3 separate regions of the Homo sapiens genome follow, and all the other regions are linked to region 1. The links come from fine-mapping of genetic effects on gene expression. A gene starts in region 1. Each other region holds a variant in brackets. All regions are shown on one strand. Distances are from middle to middle.

Region 1 (8,170 bases):
GGGACATTGGGGCACAGCACGGGGACACTTACTCAGCAGACAGCACCCTGACTGGCAAGATTGAAGAGCTCCCCTTCCTTGCTAAGACTCCCATGAAACACACAGGGGGCTGCTCAGGGGGTGCAGGCGGCAGGAGCGGGGACAGCTCAGAGGTGGGTGTGGCACAGGGTTCATGGCATAAGAGGGGTGGCCTCGGGAGCCAGGGCGGGGGCAGCCTGGAGCCAGCAGCCCTGAGGCCATGCACATCCACAGCATGCTGGCGGTGACAGCCCCGACCCGTGGCAGGGGAGCAGGCTCTGGGCTTGTCTGACCCGTGAGCACCCAGTGGCCTGGTGGCCTCAGCCCTCGTTGCCAGCCTCTTTCTAAGGTCAAGCCTGTGCTCTCCAGCCAGAGAAGGCATGCTGGGCTGGGCTGGGCTGGGGTGGGCAGGGCTGAGCTGGGCAGGGCAGGGCAGGGCTGGGCTGGGCAGGGCTGGGCAGGGCAGGGCAGGGCTGAGCTGGGTAGGGCAGGGATGAGCTGGGCTGGGCAGGGCTGGGAAGGTCAGGGCTGGGAAGGGCAGGGCAGGGCAGGGCAGGGCTGGGCTGGGCTGGGCTGGGCAGGGCAGGACAGGGCTGGGCTGGGTAGGGCAGGGATGAGCTGGGCTGGGCAGGGCTGGGAAGGGCAGGGCTGGGCTGGACTGGGCTGGACTGGGCAGGGCTGGGCAGGGCCGGGTGGAGTGGGCGATGGTGTCCATCCCGCTTAGTGGCTTCCTCTCACAGGAAGTCTGACCACCCTTCAATGCTGGGGGTCTAGGCTGGGCAGGTGGACGTGGGGGTCCATTTCTAGGCTCTAGACCCAAGGCCTTCCTGCTGCTCAGAGGTTCCTAGGCTCAGCAGAGAGGGCGGGGACAGAAGGTCCGAAATTCCATGTCCTTGGGATCCCATCTGCCCGTCCTTCCCGCCCAGCCCAGCCCAGTCTGTCTGCTCCCCAGCCTCCCACGCCCCCCATTGGCGTGCATGAGTGACATGCGTGTCCCGCACACCCTCGGTCCTGTTGTCCATCTCCCCCATCGCCCGCACACCCTCGGTCCTGTTGTCCATCTCCCCCATCGCCCGCACACCCTCGGTCCTGTTGTCCATCTCCCCCGTCGCCCGCCACCCACGCCGTCCCCACTGCCTTAGGCTGGCTGCCCCTTTGGACAGGGGCTTTGTCTACCCAAGTCACAGGACACGTGAAATTCAGCCTTAATTAAGTTGTTGGGTGATGGAGTCCCAGATGTGGGAGGCTCAGCCAGACCCTCTTGGGCTGCCCACCCGGAGAGCGACTGGGGCTGAGAGCCTCGCCTGGGGCCACTGTGCAGCTGCCGCCTCCCGCCTCCCACCTCCCGCAAAGGCCTGGGAGTGGGGCCCAAGGCAGCTGCAGCCCCACAGCCTGGCCTTGACCCTGGGCTGCCCCACAGCCCCCCTGCTGGCTCCGTGCCCACTGGGAAAACAAGCTCCTTATCTCGAATGCTTCCTGTGAACTGCAAACAGCCACGTGTCCCTTGGGAGCCACTCTTGATGAACGTGCCCTCTGTCCCACGACCCAGGGTGAGGCCGTTCACCCTCGGGCTGGGGGCCACCGGGACTGGAGGCTCTAGGCCTGGAATGAGGGGAGGGGACCTGCGGCAGGGCAGAGCCAGGCTGGAGACCACTGCATTGGGAGGGTGAGGAGGGAGAGGAGGGGGCAGGAGGGTTTGGGTCCAAGGCCTGGTTGCACAGGACAGCTGGGGATGGGGGAGAGGGGCACAGGCCAGAAAGGCTGGGGCTGCGGGGGCTAGCTAAGAGGCGAGGGTTCTGGGTGGCAGCAGCAGGCAGGGACCTTCCCGGCGGCCCCAGTGGCTCCCTCCCTCCCAGAACCCTTTCTCCTTCCTTGGGCCTAGAGCTTCCTCCACGTACTTTTCCCCGCCCCCGCCTTTCCCCTCTCTCTCACCCCGCTCAAACATGCTGTGACCTTTCCAGGGCCCCTGGACATCACTCACTGGGTGACAGAGGTTGACAGGCATGGAGCTAAGGAATGGGAGGCAGGGCGGGGGCGGCCAAGCCTCTCCAGCCGCTCCCTTCCCGCTTGCCCCACAGACGGGCCTCCCTGGATGGTCCTGGGTCAGCACACACGCTCCCAGGCGCTTCCTTCCCCAGGAGACAGTCCCCAGCCCCTGGCGGCCCAGATCCTCCTGCTCAGGCCGACGCATCCCACCTGGGCCCCAGAAACCTCTTTGGAAAGGGACAGTCACCTCAGAGTGGCAAGCACTTAAAAGAGACCCCCAACAGGCCGGTGTGTCGTGGTGGCAGGCAGGGTGTGTCTGGAGAGAAGGGGGACGTGTCCCCAGCTGGGCCTGGGGGCGGCTCCGTGGGAAAGTCCCACCTGGTCCCAGCCCCGGGTCTCCAGCCTTCAGACTCCTTGGGGGTCTCTGTGGCCTGGCAGAGGTCGGTGGCCCCTCAGTGGAGGTGAGGCCTCTCCTGGGTCACCACCGCACACCGGCCTGCTGGGAAGCTGGGGTTCTGGGCCACAGCCGGCCCTGGACGTGGAGGGGGGCATCAGGCCAGACCCCCCAGGGGCTCACAGGGCTCTGGGAGGCCCTGGCAACCCCAGGGTGCCCCCAAGCCCTCAGAAGGGTTGTCCCTACTTGGAGGGGACCACACAGCCAGGTGGGCAGGAACAGGCACCACGGCGGCCCTTCCCTGTCCACCCTCTCACCAGTGGCCCGCAGTGCAGTCCAGGAAGCACCGGACAGAGCACGGGGCAGGGAGGGGAGGCCCGTACTGGCTTCACAGAGGTCTGGGAGGGGCTAGCCCCTGTGCAGACAGACCCCTGAAGCCTAGAGCCGCCGGCCCAGCTGAGGTCCTTCCCAGGGGCCATTCTGGGACCCCTGACCCCATGCACCTGTGTCACAGGGCTATGAGCGCCCCCAGCCCCAGGACCTCCACGTTTCTCTCTAGAGGGAAGAGGAGGAGGACGGCAGGCCTGCTGGCCCCACACTTACTGGTTGGGGACGCTCAGAGGGGGCAGCCGCCATGCCGGGAAGTTAGGGTGGGCAGAGGAGCAGCGGTGCCAGGACCCCCAGGCCATGCTGCCACCCCGGACCCTGAACAGTGGGCTAGTGTGTGGGCCTGGGGAGTGAGGGCCCAGGCCGGGCTGGGTCTCGCTCCATAAACCCTGGCTGGCCGGAGCTGCAGACATCACTGTTGACACAGGGGTGATGTCACTGCCGGCCAATGGGGAGACCCTCGGGGGCCCTACGTGTGCCTCTCTGTGCTCCCAGGGCCCCCGCCACGCACGCCGCCTGCTCTGAATGCTGCCTGCATAAACCGGTTTTTCTAAATGTCTTTGGGGCCCTGCTTGCCCCCTGGGCCCCATCTCCTGCTCATCCCACCCCACCCTTGGGCCCAGCCTATGAGCCAAGCGGGAGTGGGGAGTGGCGGAGAGCCCTGGGCCTGCCCGCTCCCACAGGCATGTGGGCCCCAGAGCCCTGACCCCTGCACCTTCACCTCGCCAGCCTCTCTCCCATCTGCCACGACCCCAGCTGCCACCATGGCTCCCCACAGTCACCCCTGGGCCGTCTCTTCCTCCTGTCGGGAGAATGTTCCTCCTGGGAGAGCCTGAGGCCCCCTCTCTGCTCCTTGCTCCCCCGTCTGTCTCCCCTGCCCTGCCTTGCAGCCCTGCCCTGGGTCCATATGCTCAGAGCTGGCTACATATCCTGTGGCTGCCCATGACACATAGCTCCCCCAGGCAGGGCCGGACCCCGGGCACCTCTTTGCCTCCAGGGCCGGCCCCACTCTGTTGGAGGTCAGCCGGTTCCGAGGCCTCCAAGCCGCCTTTCTACTTCTCGATTCCAGGGCCTGGTCTCCACTCCCTCTGGGCTTTGGGGTGCATGCTGCAGTGCAGCCTCCCCGCGCCCCGGCCTCCATGCACCCTGCTCGTGCTGCCTCAGAGGCTTGGCATCTCCCCCATCTTCCAGCCAGGCAGCCAGTTTTCTGCAACGTGGGGCCCACGGTCAGCGTCCCCCACAGCCCTGCCAGCCCTTCTCCCCGGGGGTCCGCCCTGCACCCCCTTCCCAGGAGCTTGCTCTGCACCCACTGCTGGGCCTCCTGGCCTAGGGGCTTGGCACGTGCCTGTGAGCAGAGGCGCTGGGCAGGAGGAGGAGGAGGAGCCTGCAGTGCCTGGCGCCCGTGTGTGTTTACTGGTCCGGCCCCAGCCCCGCGCCGCTCCCCGCGGACCCGGCCTCCCGCCTGTGTCCAGCCAGGTGTTGGGTGATGGAGCGGGGCTCCCTAAGGACAAGGAGCACAGTGTCTGCTTTCTTTGCAAGCACAGTGCTGACAAGGAACAGAATACCCACAGCGACTGCTTCCAGGAAACGGCTGCAGGGCGGGCGGGAGCCTCTGCGAGAGCAGCCCCTTCCCAGCAAGCCGGCCTGCAGGTGGGCTTCCAGGAAGGGGCCCCCGCTGGCTTCCCTCAGCCCTGGAAGGGGGCCAACGGTGTCACCAGGAGCAGGCCAGGGAGCGGGGTAGAGGGGGGAGAAAGAGAAAGGAGAGGCGCGGAGGAGGGAAGGAGGGACGGGGCGCAGGCCTATGCTATGCCTAGTGTGGTTACCACAGCCTTAAGGGAGAGCAAGGCTGACCACAGCTCCTTCTCGAACCTTCCAATCCCCCTTTTGAGAAGTCACAAGATCTCCACTCAGGTCTTTGGCTCTCTGGGGCTTGTCAGGCATCACACACACACACACACACACACACACACACACACACACCCGTGCACACCCATCTGAAAACACAAGCAAGCTGGGCCACTGGGGGAGACCATTCCCTGAGACCCAGCCGGGGTCCAGGTTGAGGGGCTGACCTCCTGGCCCCCATGTTGGGAGGGCCGAGGAGGGCCCCCGCCCGGACCCACTGCGCCCTTGGCTCTGAGTGCTCAGATCCCACCCCCATCTCTAGAGAGGAGGAAATCATTTATCTTCCTGGGAGCTCGGGGTCGGGGAGAGGGGGCTGCCCTCCTTGAGTCCCCGACTGTTTTCTTTGAGACTTCCCAGGGTGCATTGTAGTCAGACCCAAAACATCGCTTTGTCCCTGTTGAAGGGACTTCACTTCCTTCGTAGAGTTGGGATTTTCTGTCTCCATTCGGTGGTATACCAAGTGCCTGCCTCCCACACCCAGCTGCCCCTAATCCCTGCCTGAAAACGTGCTCCTGGGTCACGGAATTCATGCTGAGACACAGCCACACACAGCCAGGCTCAGGGGTCCACCCTCCAGGGAACACCACCCCGCTACAGGGCCACGATCACACACACACCCCGCGGAGCATCTCCGGGCCGGACAGGACCCACGCCCTCCACAGCCCGGAAAGGCGGGTTAACTGGTCAGCATGCAGAGACCCACCAAGTGGAGACCCCGCTCCCAGGCACAGACGCACAGCTGTGGATGCACGTCCTCGGTGACAAGGTAGCTGAGGTCGCGTGCCCCGGGTGTGTACGGCCCACAGAGCCACAGGGGACTCGCCAGGAGATGCGTGCACCGAGGGTCCAGCGTGGCCACAGCAGCAGCACGCGCCTCAAGTCCTCTTCTCTAACTGGATGACTTGGTCTTCACTCAACCTAAACGTGCCGCAGAAACTTGGGTGGGTGGAGGGTCTGGGTGTGAAGACCTCGGTGCCTAACAGGGTCTGGGACGTGGCCAGAAGCCAGGGCACCCTCAGGGTCTCCCTGAACGGTGGAAGTTCCTCCCTCCCCAGATTTCCTGGCACCTTTGCAGGCAGCCACAACCCTCACCCCGGCCCCGCCACCCCCATGTTGGGGTTTGGGAGTGAAATTCCAGCCCGTTTGCTTCTCCGCACTGAAGTCAGTGCAGGGGCGTTTTCAAAGTGCCTTTGGGTGTTGGGGTGCCTGGAGCCTGTCTAACAACCCTCTCTAAGCCCCTTTTCTAAAAAGCAGGAAATCGGGTTGGGCCAAAGATAAACACACATTCCAACCTGGCAGGTCGCTCAGAGCTAGGGGCTCGGGCGGGCTCCCAGCCCCCGCCCCGGGGTGCGGCAGGAGGCTCCGAGGCTGAGCACCTGCTGCGGGGCCCCCGGGCCTGTGGCTCCCCGCCTGCCCGCCTCACCCTGAGGTTCAGCCCCCTGAACGCTGCCCCCACCACCTCCCTGTTTCAGGGCCTGTGGCCCAGACCCCCTCCAGCACTCAGGGGCTGCCCTAGGGACACCACCCCAGGAACTGCCCTAGGAAGCCCGTTCCGCTGCAGGGAGCAGAGAAACCTGGGCTGCCCAGAGGTAGGCGCTGCCCCTGAGTACACGTCCTGCTCTCAGGGGGCAGCCAGCGTGGGCACAGCCATGGGCAGTGCTGGGAGATGGTGGGGGCCACCAAGAGGCCTGTGTCCCTTCCCCAGCGGGTGTGAGGAGGAACAGCCCTGTCCCCATACAGCTCCCAGGTGGAAACTCCAGAGCAAGCGTGTCATTCATACACCCCGGGCCCAGAGATGTGGACGTGTCCAGCACGCCTGTTCTCTCCAAGTGACCAGGAGGAGACAATCCCTAGGAGCTGACACAGGTGACGAAGGCCCGAGGTGGCCCGCCTTTTCCCCCGGCCCCATTCCCATGTGTCCTTCCCCAGGCAGGGATTTGAAGTGGGCAGAGTCTTCCATGTTCTCCAGGAGAGGTTTTCTGGGTGCCCCTCTCCCCCTCCCTACGGTTCCCCTGCCCCGCCACCCTGGGCACCCCTGGGGCTGCCTGCCGCACCCTGCAGCCGCCACCTGGGGAAGCCGGCTTTTATCTCCTGAGCCCTGCTTTGTAAACCTCCTGCAGAGTTGGATGTTTATAATAAAGGCCGTTTATAGACCTAACTCTTGACATGTAATGGATGGGTTACTTCATCCTGCCGGCCAAAACCCACTTGGGTAAGTCAAATTGGCCTGTAGGGTCAGGAAGATGAATGCGGCCTCACCCTGGGCTGGCCCCAGCGACCTCTGACCTCCTCCATGAGATGGCAGCCAGTCCCAGGGGCACCATCCCAGAGACTTCAAGAGACTCCCTCACCGGATGTCTACATGCATCCTGGGGGGTGACCACCCGCCCAGGTTTTAGCACACAAGTGTGTCCCTGGAAACCCCTCGGTCTCTGACAGTCCCCAGGGCCCACAGCTGGATGGGGAGGGGGCAAGAGAGGGTGCAGAGGGGAGGCCAGACCCAAGGGACGTGGGGAACCACCCTGCTCTTCCGCCCTGGACACCAAGACCCCAAGGGCGGCTGGGCCGGTAGGGGAGGGGCGTCCCTAACCGCCTTCCTGTCTGTTCTTTGTCAGTCGGGGAGGAATTTTCCTGACAGCTCTGTGCACTGGGAATGGGGGTGGAAGGCAGGGGGGAGGGGGGAAGGAATGGGGAGGCCGGGACCCCACCCTTATTTCCAGGGGCTGCCCCTTGTGTTCCCAGCGCCTGCACAGCGAGGGGCCGGGAGCTGGGAGGCCTGGCTGAGGGAGCTGCCGGCCACTGGCCTCTGCGGGGAAGCTGACCCGGAACCCATGAGTGGGCTGCCTTGGCACCTGGGGAGCGAACCCCTGCATACCGGGGTTCTTGGAGCTCCAGCAGCAAGACCCCGGGGAGGGAGCCCGGGAGCCCCTCACCCTGGGCCCTCCCGCTCCTCCTCACCTCCTCCCTGTGGCCACCCTCAACTTCTTCCTCCCTCCTCCTGGTCCCCTGGCCTCCTTAGGACCTCTGCCCCAAGGCCACCTGCCCACTGAGAAGCCCACCGGCTCCCCCACAACCCCCTGGCTCCTTGTGCGGGGCCGTCCCTCCGGCGTGGCCCCGGCTCCCACCCACAGCAAAAGGGGAGCAGGAACGGGACTGGCGCGGGGTTCGTGCCCCTGTCGGGGTGGGGTCGCCCAGAGCACCTTGTGGGCCTCCCAGAGCGGCCATGGCCAGCTCTACCCCAGTCACCTAGCCCGGGCTTCAGGGGTCTGGGGCCAGCACCAAGGCGTCATTCTGATGGGACTTTGGGGCGACAGGAGGCACTCGCTCGGGGATGGTTTGGTGGTCCCCGACCCCTGCCTCAGAGCGCAGGCCCCCTCCGCAAGCCCAGCCCCCGCCCAGTCTGTGAAGCCCCTGGTCCCACAGCCCCTCCACTGCCATCACTGCATGCTGACCGCCTGCCCTGCACCCCTGAGGTCCACA
Region 2 (8,170 bases), 46 kb before region 1:
TCCAGGGTGGGATGGGGAGCCACACAGGGCACGAGGACAATTTTGGGGCAATGAGGGTGTTTGTCTCCTGATGGGGCTGGCTTCATGGCTGTCTATGTAGATTAAGATGGATGGAATCGTGCAGTTTAAACATGGCAATGGCTGCGTGTCAATGACACCCTCAACGAAGGTGGTTTTAAAAAGTATAAGGCAAATGACAAAACTGGGAAAATATTTTGAATCAAGTATGACAGAGAAGGAGTCATGTCATTCATACATTAAAGACACTTGGAAAAACACGTCAGGAAAACATTCCCACCCTAAGTAATTTGTTCAGGCTGCCATAAGAAAGCACCAAGTCTGGGCAGCTTAAATGACAGACATTTATTCTCTCACAGTCCTGGAGGTTGGAGTCCGAGATCAAGGTGCTGTGGAGCTGGTTCCTCCTGAGGCCTCTCTCCGGGGCTTGCAGATGCCACCATCTCCCTGTGTCCCCAACGGGGCTATCCCTCTGTGCGTGTCTGTGTCCTCATCTCCTCTTGTTATAAGGACACCAGTCCTATTGGATTAAGACCCACCCATATGACTCCATTTTAATTTAATTATGTCTTTAAAGACTCCATCTGCAAAAACAGTCACATTCTGAAGTATTAGCGACTAAGGCTTCAACATATGATTTTTTTTTTGTTGAGACGGATTTCACTCTGTCGCTCAGGCTGGAGTGCAGTGGCACGATCTCGGCTCACTACAACCTCCACCTCCCAGGTTCAAGCGATTCTCCTGCCTCAGCCTCCCTCGTAGCTGGGACTACAGGTACGCACCACCACACTCGACTAATTTTTGTATTTTCAGTAGAGACAGGGTTTCACCCTGTTGGCCAGCTGATCAACTCCTGACCTCAGGTGATCCACCCGCCTCGGCCTCTCAAAGTGCTGGGATTACAGGCGTGAGCCACTGTGCCCGGCCGCAAGGTAAGAATTTTAAGCAGGACACAATTCAGCCTGCAGAAAACATGAGCGACAGACAGAAGCAGCCAAGCCCTGGAATCAGAAATATGAGCAACCGATACACGCACGCCGCTACACCTGGCTCACTTGTCTATTTTTTGTAGAGACAGGGGTTTCACCATGTTGCCCAGGCTGGACTTAAACTCCTGGGCTCAATGATCCACCCACCTTGGCCCCCCAAAGTGTCGGGATTACAGGTGTGAGCCACCGTGCCTGGCCGAGGCTGCAGTTTTCAATGAGGTGGGTGAATGAGGCCTCCGTGGGAAGAGGGCATGGCAAGTGTGCGGGGTCAGCACGTGCCCAGGCCCTGCGGCCCGGGAAGCCCACATGCTACAGGGGCACAAGAAGGCCCACGTGGACCCTCAGAGGCCCCCGACCACGCCATGTGAGAGGCTGACTACCTCTGCCACCCCCTCTTTGTGGCACCCGAGAGCAGGGTGCCTAGGAGGCCAAGAATGGTGGGGGGAACTGGGATTAAGATGGGACTCCTAGAATGGAGGCACTGTTGAGCCCTGGGCCACCAGGAGCAGGTGCTGGGAGGGGCTCTGCTGCTGCAGCAAAGGGGCCAGGTTGGCTGGGAAGGTGGGAGGGAGTGGGGGAGGAAGGTGGGAGGGAGGGGGGAGGGAGAGGGAGGGGCTGATGGGGAGACAAGAAGTCTCTAATGGCAGCTGATTCTGAAGGGCTTCGTCAGGGCAGCACCAACACACCCCCGCCTGCTGTCCTGGTCCTGTCCAAACGCAGCCTCCCATGTGGGTGGGGGGCCTTCTCTTCTGGTTGGGAGAAAAGCCAGGTGGCCACGTGTGTGGCTGGTGATCACAGGCTGGCGCTGCAAGGAGCTTTGAGGCTGCAAGGAGCTCTTGCTGTGCCACTGCACTTCCACACTCCAGCCTGGGAAACAGAGTGAGACCGTCTCAAAACACACACACACACACACACACACACACACACACACACACATACAAAAGCAGAAACCGACCAGGACATTGCTTGCTTGAGACTGGGAAATCCAGGATGGGATGGGGAGCCACACAGGGCACGAGAAAAATTTTGGGGCAATGGGTGTGTCTATCACAGCTCTGGGGAGGGCCGCAGGCTGTTTGGGGGGGTGGTGTCTTCTGGGTTCTATCCTGGTGTAATGCACAATGGCTTTGTGGATGTGAGCAAGCCACATTCCCAGAGCCATGGTCACCCAGCCGGTACACAGGGTCTGAGGATGCTGGACGCAGGCAAGGAGGGTTTGTGGTCCACGCTGTGGCCTGCAGGATGGGCAAGGGCTGGCAACAACCCTTCTGAGCTGCCTGTGCCTCTCCTGTGAGTCCTGCCTGCTCTGCCCCAGGGATCCTGGTGCCTGGGTCTGGCCTCCCCTGGGCTGTCTGGTTCCTGGACAGTGAGAGCCGGTGATCTGCAGCCAGGGCCTGGCACAAGTAGGTGCTGGGTAAAACAAGGGGGTTGCCATTTCTTCCTAATCTTTGAAAACCTGCATTTGAACATGGTGGCTCACTGGTTTGTGCTTACAGTGATTTCGCTACAAGTGTTTGCACCTTTTTGTGTGTTTATTGGCGGGATGAATGAATGAGTCTATGAATGAATGAGTGAGTGTATGTGTGAACAGCCCCTCCCCCACCCTCTGTATGAATGAATGAATGAGTGTATGTGTGAACGGCCCCTCCCCCCACCCTCTGTATGAATGAATGAATGAGTGTATCTGTGAACGGCCCCTCCCCCACCCTCTGAATGAATGAATGAGTGAGTGTATGTATGAACGGCCCCTCCCCCACCCTCTGAATGAATGAATGAATGAGTGTATGTGTGAACAGCCCCTTCCCCACCCTCTGTATGAATGAATGAATGAGTGTATGTGTGAACGGCCCCTCCCCCCCACCCTCTGTATGAATGAATGAATGAGTGTATCTGTGAACGGCCCCTCCCCCACCCTCTGTATGAATGAATGAGTGTATGTATGAACGGCCCCTCCCCCACCCTCTGAATGAATGAATGAATGAGTGTGTGTGTGAACAGCCCCTCCCCCCACCCTCTGTACGAATGAATGAATGAGTGAGTGTATGTGTGAACGGCCCCTCTCCCCCACGACCTGATTCTCATCTGCAGGCTGAAAGTGCTTTCCCAGCTGAATTCGTACGTTCCCTTAAAACCCTTCAGGGACCCTCACTGTAAAAACGCCCCAGCTCCCCCAGCCTGACTCGCAAAGCTCAGTTTAGGGGCTGCCCTTGCAGCGGGGCTCCTGGCTCAGGTCTAGCAGGTGGAAGCAGAAGAGCATGTCCCGACACACCGATGAGAAGTTGCTGAGGACGTGGAGCAGCAGGAAGCACCACCTTTGCAGTGGGAACGCCAAACAGTGCGGCCACTTTGGAAGACCGCGGGGCAGTTTCTTACAAAATCAAACGTCCTCCTACCATACAACCAGCAATGGCCCTCCTGGGTGTTTCTGCAAATGAATTGAAAACTTGTGTCCACCCTAAAACCTGCACACACATGTTTGCAGAGGCTTTATTCATTACTGCCGAGACTTGGAAGTAAACAAGAAGTCCTTCCGTAGGCAAAGGGATAAACCGAGGTACATCCAGACAATGGAACAATATCCGGCCCGAAAAGAATGCACTATGAAACCACAAAAAAACCCAGAGGAGCCCTAGCTGCATCTCACTCATGGCAAGAAGCCAATCTCGAAAGGCTACGTGCTGTATGATTCCAATGATACCACAGCCTGGAGAGGGCAATGCCAAGGCGGCAGTGGAAAGAGCCAGGGCTGCCAGGGGCCGGGGGAGGCAGGAATGCACAGGCAGGGCAGAGGCAGCTTTTCAGGCAGTGACACTTCTGTGTGACACCATAGTGGTGGCTAAAGGACATTTTGCAAGGATGAAACCTGGGGGTAAACTCTGGACTTAATAGTAATGCATCAGTATTGGTTTATCAATTGGAACAGATCACACCACACGATGCAAGATGTTAATAATGGAGGGGCACTCAAGGAGAGGGGGTCTGTGGGAACTCTGTATACTCCCTGAGCAATTTTTCTGTAAGCCCAAAGTTCCTCTAAAAGATAAGGTCTACTTAAAAAGGACCAATTATTGGGCCAGGTGCAGTGGCTCATGCCTGTAATCCTAGCACTCTGGGAGGCCGAGGCAGGTGGATC[A/G]CCTGCGGTCAGGAGTTCGAGAACAGCCTGGCCAACGTGGCGAAACCCCATCCTTATTAAAAATACAAAATCAGTTGGGCGTGGGGGCCCGCACCTGTAATCCCAGCTACTCGGGAGGCCGAGTCAGGGGAACTGCTTGAACCTACGAGGTGGAGGCTGCAGTGAGCCAAGACTGTGCCATTGCACTCCAGCCTGGGCTACACGTGACCCTGTCTCAAAAAATAAAAAATAAAATACAATAAAATAAAATAAGGGCCAGGCATAGTGGCTCACGCCTATAATCCCAGCATTTTGGGAGGCCAAAGTGGGCGGATCACGAGGTCAGGAGATGGAGACCATCCTGGCTAACATGGTGAAACCCTGTCTCTATTAAAAATACAAAAATTAGCCGGGTATGGTGGCGCACGCCTGTAATCCCAGCTACTCAGGAGGCTGAGGCAGGAGAATTGCTTGAACCCGGGAGGCAGAGATTGCAGTGAGCCAAGATCGCGCCACTGCACTCCAGCCTGGCGACAGAGTGAGAGTGAGACTCTGTCTCAAATAAATAAACAAATAAAAATAAAATGACAATTTATTAGTTGTTTATCTGAACTTCAGATTTAACTGGGCCTGTATTTATCTGGCAGCCTCAACCCCGTGCAGACCATTGATCTCAGGAGAGGCAGGCAGAGCGGAAGCCGCGCTGGCATTTGTGTTCAATGGCAGGTGGGAAGGAGGAAGAGGAGGTCTCCACTGGCTCCCCAGGCATCTCAGAGACCCCCCATACTTAGCATGCCTTCCGGAGGATCCCATTAGCAGACTATCAGAGAAACAGGGATGGAAGGAGTGGTGAGGGGTCTGCTCCATTGTGACCCCACCCCTGCCTCGCCCTGAGGAAGGACCTCAGCTCCTAGCTCAACCGCCGCCCTCCAGCAGCCCCAGTGATCTGAGCAGCACCCACCCGTGACCCACAGCTCGGCCTCCAATCACCCTCCTCTCCACATCGGCCACCCACAACTCTGAACCCAACTTCCAGCAGCCACATATCTCTAAGCACACTGCACAATGTGGCTGCCGAAAGAGGCAGCATTGCATGAACATAAAAGGAAGCCTGAGGACCCCCGGCCCCAGGACCCCCCTTCTCCAGCTCCATCCCTGTCCTGCGGTCTGCTCCTTGGGCCTGGCCAAGGGCACCTGCTGCTGGGCAAAGGCCTGTCTGGTCACCAGCCTCCTGGGACCCTGCCACTGGCAGCCTGGAGCTTCTCCACCTCACGCAGGCCTGGACAACAGTGGGGACGGCTGCCACCACCTTCCCTGCCCACTCTGGCCCACTTCTCACTCCATCCTGCTTCAATGCCTTCATGCTAGATAGACCCCCTGGAGTCATTTCCACTCAAACCCACCCATCAGGAGGAACTCCAGCCCTACCCGGCCCAGGCCCTCGGAGGGGCACAGTGCCCTCTCCTCCTCCTGAATTTCCATCAACCCCAGTGCCCTCCCGCAGCCCTGTTCCCACCTGCAGGCCTGGGCCCCCTGCCCCCAGCAACAACCAGGACCCATGGCCCCGCTTCTTGCTCTGAAGCATGACACCCCTGCCTCTTGCTCTGAAGAACACTTAGGGTGCTGTTGGGTGCGGGAACAAGCCAGGCTTGGGGGTGGGGGGCACGGGCAGTTAAAGAGATAGATGGAGAAGTGGCCTGAATCCAGCCACCAGGCAGAGGAAACCAGGGGAGGAGGGAGAGGCCTGGGGACAGGGGAGGGAGGCTGCTGCCCTCTACTCCCGAAGGGTCCCAGCAGCCCTCCTGGCCAGCACTACCCAAGGAAAGGAGTGAGGACTGGGCCTTGGACGGGGGTCCCTGTAGAGAGGGCCTTGCCAGAGGCTGGAGGGGGCTGGCCAGAAGGGTGGAGAGGGGGTGAGCAAACGGCAAGGCCTGAAGAGGCCAGTGGCCCTCTTGGAGGAGGCGTGGTGGGAGCACCGAGGATGGACAGCGTGGCTGGTGTGGCCAGCGTGGGGGCTGCCAACCGGGCTGGCCAGAAGGGCGAGGTGAGGGGCCCTGGGGTTCCGGGCTCCCGGGTAAAAACAGCCAGATGGAGAGAGGGGCTTCAGACCCCAGGCCCGGGGACCCGCCCTCCCCAGCACTACAGCCCCGGTTCTCCACTTCCAGCTCCCAGCAGCTGCAAGCGCAGCGGTGCGGGGCCAGGCTGTGGCCTGGAGCTGCCAAAGGGCAGGGGCACGGGTGTGGGGGGCGTGCAGGCCGGGGTCCCGGGAGGCAGGGCAGACAGGCCCGAAAGAGTGCGACGGCGGCGGGAGGTCTCTGGGGCTGGGAGGGGTGCGGGCGTGGGCGGGGCGCGAGCAGCAGGGGCGCGGGCCCGGGCTTCAGGCTGTGGGGCCGGGAGTGCGGGGCGGGACTGCTGCGGCCCCGCGTCCTGTGGAGTCTGCGGCGCGGGGAGTGGGGGTCGGGGCGGGGAGGAACGTGGGGTGCGGGACAGGAGGGGGGCAGGGAGGGAGAAGAAGGCGGCGCGGGGCGGGGCGGGCGCAGGGCTGGGGACGGCACGGGCGCGCGGCACGGGCGCTGGCGCGTGCGGGGGGGGCGGCGCGGCCTCCGGAAGCGAGGGGGCGCTGTGCCAGGCGGCGGCCGTGCGGGGCGGGCGCGCTGCTCCTTCCGCCTCGCGGACCCCGGAAGCGCGCGTGGCCGCCATGGCGCGGAATGTGGTGTGAGTAGGGGTCGTCACCCCCCCGTCGCGGGGCGCCCCTTAGTGTCACAAGCAGACGGACCCCACAGGGCGCGCGGACTCCGGGGAGCGGGGTGGGCGTCCCTGGGCCGCCTCCTGGCCCGGGCGAGGCAGGGTTCTCCGGGACCCCCTGTCATGCCTTGAGACACGCGAGGCGGGTGGCGGAGGAGCCCCCCGCCAGGTTTAGGGCAACCCCAGGGGGCGGGCGTGGCCGGGCTGGGGACAGAGGGTCCGAGCCAAACCCATGGAGGCCACGGTGCCCCCGCGTGGGGAGTGGGAGGGTGGCCCGGGGTCAGGCCCGGGGCTGGTCCCGCAGCCAGGGCCGAGGGAGCTGTTTGGAGACGTTTCTGATCGTCACGGGGCGGGGGCCACGTCGGCTGTTGGGTCCAGGCGGGGAGGCCCGGGCGGCCCCCACCGCAGCGCGGGCGCGGCCTGAGGCAGAGGAGCTGGGAATCCAGATTGGGTTTGAGTGGGAAAGGGCAGCTGACCGCAGCCCTCAGGGCTTTGGGGCAGGCAGGGCGGGAGGCCCGGTTCTGCTCAGCCCAGACCCCCCACGCCCACTCTGCATGTTCTCTGGATTCCCAGGGGGCCATCGGGGCGCTGTCCTGCACCACTTCGCCCTCCCCAAATTGAAGCAGGAAGCCCTGCATATTTCTTGGTGAACGAATGACTCAGGCGTAATCAGTAGATGTGGGCTCCCGGGTGGGTTTTGGAGAACAGTAATCAGTGTTTCTGGAGAGGGACGGTCAAGGGGCCAGGGTGTGGCTTTGGAGGCCCCTGCACATAGCTGGGGAGAGAGGGGAGGGTGGCAGGTGGGACCCCCAGTGGAGGAGGCTTCCTTCAGCAGACACCTGGGACCGGTGCTGCGCGTGGCCCTGACCTTGGGGAACACCCAGCACCAAGGAAGAAAAGGTCTGAGTGAGGCCAACACTGCCCTGAGCCTCACGTGAATTCCACGCTGGCCCTTCGCCTGTCCCTGGAGAATGAGGAGGAAGTGAGGGTCAGAGGACCCGGGTGGGGTGTTCCTGAAGGGCCAAGGGTGGTGGGCCCCTGGAAACGGATCAGGTGTGGTTGCCTTGGAGGCAGCGGGGCCCGCTCGCCCAGCAGTGCACACACTCCTGTTGCCAGGGAGCCTTTGCAGGGAGCGCTGACTGGACTTGCTGTGGACTGGATGCAGCTGGGGTGGGGGTGCCGAGAGGGTGGGATCCTGGGTGAGTCACTCGTGGGGCCGTGGGGAGGCAGGCTGGTGGCAGTGAGCCAGGTTTTTGTGTTTTGAGGAAGAAGTTAGTGCAGAGTTCTACTTGAGATAGGTTACCGT
Region 3 (8,170 bases), 110 kb before region 1:
TCCCCGAGCGGCCGAAGCAGGAGATGCTGTGAGCAGCCCCATAACGCGTGCCTGGGCTCTAGCCCCTATCCGTGTACCCTGGGGCCTGGGCAGAGGGGGAGGTCAAGGGCCTGGGCTTGGGGGTTCCAGTGCAGGATGAGAGCGAGGAAGGGCCCCCAGGAGCAGGCGTGGGAGTGGGTGAGTGCTCCTGGGGCGAGGGTGGCCACAGCCCTAGAGGAGGGTCTGCCAATACCTGGCTGCCTCCTGGGCGCTGACCCAGGCTCTGTGTCCGTGCCCTGGCCCTTGCTCGGACCGCCTCTGACCCCAGCCACGCAGCCTGGCCGAGCCCCCCACCAGACTCCCCCGCCAGTGACTCACAGAGCCACGTCCAACTTGGCGGCCAGGCTGGCTTGCTTCCTCCTTGGGCCCAGGAGGCCTCCGCGGCTGGGCTGGGCTGTTTTTCCAATAATGCTTCCCTTCCTTCTGGCCTCTTTTGTTCCATTTTCTCCAAGTCAGCAGCCTTGGGCAGAGTGGGGTTCAGCGGTCACCATAGTCAGGCCCTTGGCCACCCCCACCAAGGGCCCCAGCTATCCAGGGGCTCCCCCTGCCACATGGGAGGCCTGAGAAGTCGGGGCTTAGGAGGACCTCATGTAGGGTCCTCATGTGGGGACCAGGGCAGCCCTTGGGGAGCCCCAGGATGATGGGGGAGGCACAGCCCTGCCCTAGGGAGCCCCAGACTGATGGGGGAAGCACAGCCCTGCTGTTAGGGAGCCACAGGCTGACGGGGGAGGCCCAGCCCTGCCCTAGCGAGTCCCAGAGTGATGGGGGAGGCACAGCCCTGCTCTTAGGGAGCCACAGGCTGACAGGGGAGGCACAGCCCTGTCCTCAGGGAGCCCTACACTGATCGAAGAGGCACAGCCTTACCCTCAGGGAGCCCCAAACTGATGAGGGAGGCATAGCCCTGCCCTCAGGTAGCCCCAGGCTGATGGAGGAGGCATAGCCCTGCTGAGCCTCAAGGAGTCCTGGACTGATGGAGGAAGCACAGTTCTCAGGCTGCCCCAGAACTGACGGGGGAGGCATAGCCCTGCCCTCAGGTATTCTGACCACAGGAGACACAGCCCAGAGCCAGCTCTGTGGCAGACAGGGTCTCCCACACTTGGAGTCCAGGGCCTGAGCGGGCGCCGTGAGGTGAGTGTGGGCCCTGGGCAGAGGAGGCAGCAGCCGCCCAGGCCTAAGCTCCCCCCTGCTACCCTCAGCCTCAGCCTGAAGCCCTCGGAGGCCCCTGAACTGGATGAGGACGAGGGCTTTGGCGACTGGTCCCAGAGGCCAGAGCAGCGGCAGCAGCACGAGGGGGCGCAGGGCGCCTTGGACAGCGGAGAGCCCCCCCAGTGCAGGAGTCCTGAGGGGGAGCAAGAGGACAGGTGAGTGAGGGCCTCGAGGGCGGGCGCTGGGCAGAGCAGGGCTCCCTCTGGACCTCGAGGGCGGGCGCTGGGCAGAGCAGGGCTCCCTCTGGACCTCGAGGGCGGGCGCTGGGCAGAGCAGGGCACCGCGGAGCTCCCTTCAGGCCCTCAACCTGCGCCTGAGCAGCCACCCCATCCTCCCCTTTCCAAGCAGAGCCTGAAATGCCCCCATGGCCAGGAAAGGGGGAGACAGGAGGGGAGGGAGGAAGAGGGCGAGACAGCATGGTGGCCGGCGAGGGGCCGCGAGGAAACCTCATTCTGGGGCTCCCCAGGGCCCCTGGGCCCCATCCAGGCAGCTGCGAGGCCAGGCCGGGTGCTGCCACATCAGCACACAGCTGCGGCCGCTTCCGTAATGGAGGCTGAGAGCCCGCCGCCGCCCCTTCCTCCCTCGGGGCTGGCTGATCTCCATTCCCACGGAGGGGAGCAGGTATTTCCAGATGTGCATGCCGGAGAGTCGGCCGGGAGGACGCACTTTCCAGATGTGGGGATGTGTGTGCCTGTCTCAACCCCAACAGGCCCAACAGGGGCTGCTCCCGAGCCCCACTTCACTACCCCTGCTCGGGGTCCTTGCCGCTCTCAGTCATCTGTGGCCATGATGGGGCTGACCCCACCCGCCCTGCAGGGCCTGGGCCATCTGGGACCCCAGCCCTGCTCAGGACCCCCTTGCCTTGAGTGGGACCAGAGCCCATGGCTGGGCTGACAGTTCTCCCTGGTCAGGGTCCTTCCTGGCCCCTCTGAGGCCCTAAACCAGCCTGGAGCTCTAGGGACCAGTGTTGCTGAGCGACGCTCCCTTGTCCTCCTACAACCAGGCTCCCACTCCCCAAGAACCACTGGTCCTGGCCTGGCGCAGTGCCCACCGCCCCCCTCCCTGGGCCTCAGTCTCCCCCCTACGTGCTTGGGAGTCAGCGGCTCTGCTTTTCTGAGATGGGGCAGCTCCCTTCTCCCTTGGCCTCAGGCCTAGGCGGGCGAGGCTGCTCCCACCAGCAGGGGGCGCTTTGACTCTTCCGTGGAGCCCAGCTCTGCGGCCGCCACCCCACCCCCTGCACCTGCCTGGCTGCACAGACCTGCTCCTGAATGGCCCCTCTGTGTGGCTGCTGCTGGCTCAGACCCCTGCCCACCTTGGGCGGGTGGGTCTGGGTCTTGGCTGGCACGCACACCCAGGGGCCTGAAATCATGGAAAATTCGAGAATTTCCCATCTTCTCCTCCAGGTTCAGTCCTGCTCAAATGCAGAGCCGCTCAAAGCTGCCAGCTGGCTGGCCTCCCCTCCCCCGCAGCCGGCAGCCCCTTGGCCCTGCTCCTCAGTGACCTGGCCCCTACCCCTGCCTAGCCCTCCAAATGACCCAGCCTCCAGTCCCCCAAACACCCAAGGGCCCCCACAGGGAGCAGAGCAGGAGTGGTGGCCCCAGCAGCCCGGCCTCGCGGGGACCCCGTCAGACCAACCGGGTGTGCAAGCAGCTGCCAAGCTGAGGCCCAGCCACAAAGCTGGGGATTGAACCCAGCCTCAGTGCCTGGGGGACCCTCAGTCTGTAGAGCCCTGTCTGGCAGGGACTGGGCAGTTCCCCAGGGGCCTCAGGCCCTGACACAGGGGCCCAAGCAGACTGCGCTGGCTCTGAGGCCACTGGACCTTCTTTCCCAATGGGCTTGGGTCTCAGATCCCTTGGCACTCAAGTAGCCTGACTACCTTCATTTTACAGATGGGGAAACTGAGGCTTGGAAAAAGGAAGGGGTCAACCAAGCAATCCAATGGCCCTAGAACGGCTTTGCCTCCCTTTCCACCCACAGGCCCGGCCTGCATGCCTACGAAAAGGAGGACAGTGATGAAGTCCACCTGGAGGAGTTGAGTCTGAGCAAGGAGGGGCCAGGCCCAGAGGACACTGTCCAGGACAACCTGGGGGCCGCAGGGGCTGAGGAGGAACAGGAGGAGGTGATGGCTCCACCTCAGAGGGTCTGGGTGTACCCCCACCCCAGGGATGAGTCTGCCTTGGCTGTCTGCACCACTCTGTGGGCCCTGTGGGTCTAGCCCAGAGTGGGTCAGCACCCCACACCCCTAGACCTTGCAGCCCCTTCTGGGCCCACATTCTCAGAGAGGGCAAGGCTCAGTGATCCTCTTGCAAGATCCGGAGACATCTCTCCAGACTCCTCAGTCCCTCCCCACCAGCTCCAGAACTGGAGCACGTCAGGGCCACAGAGAACCTGGGGCTCAGGAAGGAACAGCATTTGTTCCCACAGGTGCTGGGCAGGGCAGGAGGGGCACAAGCAGGGGGTCACTTGGGATGTCTGTTTTTTTTTTTCTAGCACCAGAAATGTCAGCAGCCCAGGACACCCAGCCCCTTGGTCTTGGAGGGGACCATCGAACAGAGCTCGCCTCCCCTGAGCCCTACCACCAAAGTAAGTTAAGCTGCAAAGCCTGCCATCTTCTCCCCTCTCCCGTACTCATACCCAAAAGGCCAATCCCACATGCCAGCCACAGGAAGACCAGGCCCAGGCCTGGCTTTTGTCTGCTATCCCCCCATTGCCCGGTGCTCAGCGAACCCCCATGATATAAGGGTTGGGGGTTGGATTAGTGGTTGGAGTAGCTGGGGAGATGGAGGGTGGGCTTTACCTCGGCTGCTGCAGGCCTGTGTCTCTCTCCACCCTCTGCAGCTCATCGACAGGACCGAGTCCCTAAACCGCTCCATAGAGAAGAGGTCTGTCTGTCTGTCTGTCTGCTTTCTGGGCTCAGATCTTAGGTTTAACCAAGTGGGGGTTGAAGGGAGTCACAAGGTAGAGATCTGGAGACCGAGGGGGGCTCTGGGAGAGGCTTGGGCAGGTTGGGAGAAGCCTTGTGGGAGACATGGGGCCTGACACATCTTCTACCCTCCAGTAACAGTGTGAAGAAATCCCAGCCAGACTTGCCCATCTCCAAGATTGATCAGTGGCTGGAACAATACACCCAGGCCATCGAGGTATGACCTGGCTCCCCTCTGCTGTCAGGTCCCTCCTGCATCCTGGCACCATTCCTTCATCCAACCAA[C/T]GCCCTTCCATCCAATCAGTGCCGCCTTATTCAACCAACACCCTATCCAACCAATGCTTCTCCATCCAGTCAGTGCCCCTCTACCCAATCAATGCCCCTCCATCTAATCAATGTCACTCCATGTAATCAATGCCCCCCCTTTCAATCAATGCTACTCCATCCAACCAATAATCTCCCATCCTATCAATGCTTCTGCATCCAATTAATGTTCCTTTATACAACCAATACTCCTGCAACCAATACTCCTCCAATTATTCAGTGTTCCTCCATTCAATCAATGCCCCCCTCGGAACAGTACTCCACCACCCAATCAATGCTCTTTCATCCTATCAATGCTCCTCTATCCAGCCAATATTCCTCCAGTCAATCAATCCCCCTTTATCCAACCAGTACTCCTTAATCCAATCAGTGCCCCTCCATCCAATCAAGATTCATCCCTCCATCCAATACTACTCCATCCAATCAGTGCCTCTGCATCCAATGTCCCTCCATCCAATCAATGTCCCTCCCATCCAATCAATTCTCCTCCATCCATCAATGCTTCTCCATCTGACCAATACCCTCCATCCAACCAATACTCATCTATCCAATGAATGGCTCACCATGTAACCAATGCCAGTCCCACATGCCAGCCCCTCCATTCAATCGGTACCTCTCCATCCAATCATCCAATACTCTTCCATCCAGTCAATGTCCCTGCATCCAACCAATAGTCCTTCATCCACCAACTCCCTTCAATCCAACCAATACACCTTCATCCAATCAATACCCCTATTCATTCAGTGCTCCTCCATTCAATCAATTCCCCTCCAGCCAACCAAAACAACTTCATCCAGTCAATGCCCCTCCATCCAATAATGCCTTGCACCCAATCAATGGCCTTCTATCCCATCAATTTCCCTCCATCCAACCAAAATAGTTTCACCCAATCAATGCCTCTGCTTCCAATCAATGCCCTTCTATTCAACCAATACTTCTTTATCTAATCAGGACATCTCCATCTAACCAGTATCCTTCCATCCAACCAACACTCTACTAAATCAGTGCCCCTCCATCCACCCAGTGCCCCTCCATCCACCCAGTACTCACTTATCCAACAAGCACTCCTCTATCTTACCAGTATTCCTCCATCCAATCAGTGCTCTTCTATGCAATTAATGCCCCTCCATCCATACTTTACTCCTTCACCCAATCAGCGCCCTTCTAGTCAAGCAATACTTCTGATTTCAATTAATCCCCCTTCAACCAACCAATACTCCTCCATCCAACCAGTACTCCTCCATGCAATCAATGTTCCTCTATCCAACCAACATCCTTCTATCCAACCAATATTCCTCCATCCAATTAATGCCTCTCCATCCAACCAGTACTCCTCCGTCCTATCAATGCTCCTGTATCCTATCAATATTCCTCCATCCAACCAATACTTCCCCATCCAATCAATACTCCTTCATTCATTCACTGCTCCTCCATCCAGTCAATACCTTTCCATCCTACCAGTGCCCCTCCATCCAACCAATACTCCTTTATCCAATCAACGTCGTTGCATGCAATCAATGCCCCTTCATTGAACCAATACGGCTCTATCCAACCAATACTACTCCATTCAATCAATGCCCCTCCATCTAACAAACACTCCCTCATATAATCAGTACTCCTCCATCCAATCAATATTCCTTCATCTATCAACACCTTTCTATACAACCAATACTCCTCCATCTAATCAATGCTCCTCCATCCAACCAATACTCTGAAATTTAACCATTGTCCCTCTATCCATTCAATGTCCCTCCATCCATCCCATGGTCCCCCAGCCCTACCCCATGAGGAGCATGGAGGCAGACCCACATCTGTCCTGTGCGCCATCATCTCCCTGATGCTCTTCAGGACAGGGAGGTGTCTCACAACTGCATCGAATGGAGGAAGGCTCATCTTTCCAGTGATCCCCACTCTGGGGCTGCATTGGGAAAGCGCTCCCAGGGAAAACACAAACACAAAGCAGACGGTTGCCCAGTGTGACCCTCTGATGTGACCACGGTGGCTGTCCACTAAGGTAATCCTGATGCTTTTCCTCCTCTGCAGACCGCTGGCCGGACCCCCAAGCTAGCCCGCCAGGCCTCCATAGAGCTGCCCAGCATGGCTGTGGCCAGTACCAAGAGTCGGTGGGAGACGGGTGAGGTACAGGCTCAGTCTGCGGCCAAGACTCCGTCCTGCAAGGTAAGGTCCCCTCCAGGGGCAAGGCTGGGCTGCAGAGCCAGCGCCTGGGAGTTTAGTAGCAGGCCGGGTTTCCTTGTTAAGACAAGCATGGGACTGTCCAGGATGAATGTGGGTATACAGAACCCTGAGGTATTGCAGTAGGGTTGGGTTCACCCTTGCTGGTGTAGAAGGCTGTGTTGTCCGAGTGGAGGTAGATGGCACCTTTATTCCTTTCCCTGCCTCTTCCACTGGGATCACACAGAAAAAGTTTAGGTAGGCAGATCCCAGGCCCCCTGGCCAGGTAAGGCAAGGCGGGAGAGAAGGGCCCAGGGCTTCTACTCCCCAAGATCCAGGGGTCTGCCCTTGTGACATACCCTTCTGCTGCCCCCAGGATATTGTGGCTGGAGACATGAGCAAGAAAAGCCTCTGGGAGCAGAAGGGAGGCTCCAAGACCTCATCAACAATTAAGGTAGAGCCTAAATGTGGTTGGTGCAGGCAGGGTGGGTGCAGCAGGGGAGGGCAAAGAGGGACTGTCCTCTGTGCATCTGGGAGGGCTTCCCAGAGGCGGAGGCAGCATCATCTCCTTTCTGCTGCTCTCACCTTCACTCTTGGTCTCCTTTCCCAACAGAGCACCCCATCTGGGAAGAGGTATAAGTTTGTGGCCACCGGGCATGGGAAGTATGAGAAGGTGCTTGTGGAAGGGGGCCCGGCTCCCTAGGCGTCCCATCTCGGTGAGTCCCTGGCAACTCACAGAAGGGGATGAGGTGCACACACGTGCACTGTGCTGGGAACTTGGCAACCTGGAGGCTGCCTGGAGCCCTGTTGCAGGCTACAAGGGTGGACTCCGAGTTGGCCAGAACCCAGACCAGCTCAGTCTCCCAGTCCTGTGCAGATGCTGCCTCTCTCACCTGATACCAGATTCAAACTCTCTGCTCATTTCACTAGAGTCAGCCCGGCTCAGCCACTGCTCCACTAGGGAAGCTCAAGGCTCCCATCTGGGACTCCCCAAAAGCCACAGCAGGGCTCGTGAGGGAAGTGAGGGGCAGCCTGGCCACCACAGGGCTAGCATTGAAGGAAGCAGGTGGCATGGAGCCCAGGTTCCCTGACCATCTGTATGCTGAGGGTCCATAGAGGGGCAGGAACTTAGGTCCTACTCCCTGTCCCAGCCGAGAGCGATTCAGAGGTCCTGATGCCCTCCCCATCCCATGCTGCAGACAGAGCAGTGCCACTCCTGCCATGGTGAGACACACATTTATTAGTGACCTGGGCCCCAGGCTCCATTTCCAGCACCCATCACACCACAGGGTGGGGCAGCTGTCCTCCTACCATCTTCCCCTGCCAAACCCTGACTCTCAAGCAGCTGTGGCAGAGGCTTTTTCTGGTACCTCTGTGTCCCTCTCCTGTGGTTGGCCACCCCCACCAGAGCCTGGCTGACTGCTGAGTAGGCCCCTCCACTCTCCCCACCAGGGCCACAGCCCCTTCTCTGTCCCGCTTGGCCAAGCTGTTCCCATAGGGTTGGGA

Evidence for each region.
Region 2: its variant is fine-mapped to the expression of MRPL23-AS1 in thyroid (GTEx, PIP above 0.99).
Region 3: its variant is fine-mapped to the expression of MRPL23-AS1 in subcutaneous fat (GTEx, PIP 0.97).

What each region holds. Positions count from the first base shown.
Region 1 is chr11:1,986,825-1,994,994 of GRCh38, forward strand. MRPL23-AS1 (MRPL23 antisense RNA 1) reads right to left here and starts at 3,096. Exons shown (of 4, transcript NR_024471.1): 1 at 3,002-3,096. LINC01219 (long intergenic non-protein coding RNA 1219) reads left to right here and starts at 4,272. Exons shown (of 3, transcript NR_126400.1): 1 at 4,272-4,435; 2 at 5,114-5,456; 3 at 6,431-6,645. It also overlaps a transcript of MRPL23 not described here. RefSeq lists enhancers at 66-4,985, 66-920, 915-4,985.
Region 2 is chr11:1,940,546-1,948,715 of GRCh38, forward strand. It overlaps MRPL23 (mitochondrial ribosomal protein L23), which reads left to right and starts at 6,787. Exons shown (of 5, transcript NM_021134.4): 1 at 6,787-6,834. The coding sequence starts at 6,818. The variant A/G (reference allele first, on the strand shown) is at 4,141.
Region 3 is chr11:1,880,197-1,888,366 of GRCh38, forward strand. It overlaps LSP1 (lymphocyte specific protein 1), which reads left to right. Exons shown (of 11, transcript NM_002339.3): 2 at 1-28; 3 at 1,236-1,400; 4 at 3,223-3,364; 5 at 3,736-3,828; 6 at 4,084-4,127; 7 at 4,304-4,385; 8 at 6,536-6,670; 9 at 7,041-7,118; 10 at 7,278-7,380. The coding sequence ends at 7,367. PRR33 (proline rich 33) reads right to left here. Exons shown (of 1, transcript NM_001395380.1): 1 at 7,882-8,170. Among named protein-coding and RNA genes, the nearest start is that of MIR7847, 4.2 kb to the left of the region's middle. RefSeq lists an enhancer at 1,824-2,033 and a silencer at 7,011-7,177. The variant C/T (reference allele first, on the strand shown) is at 4,454.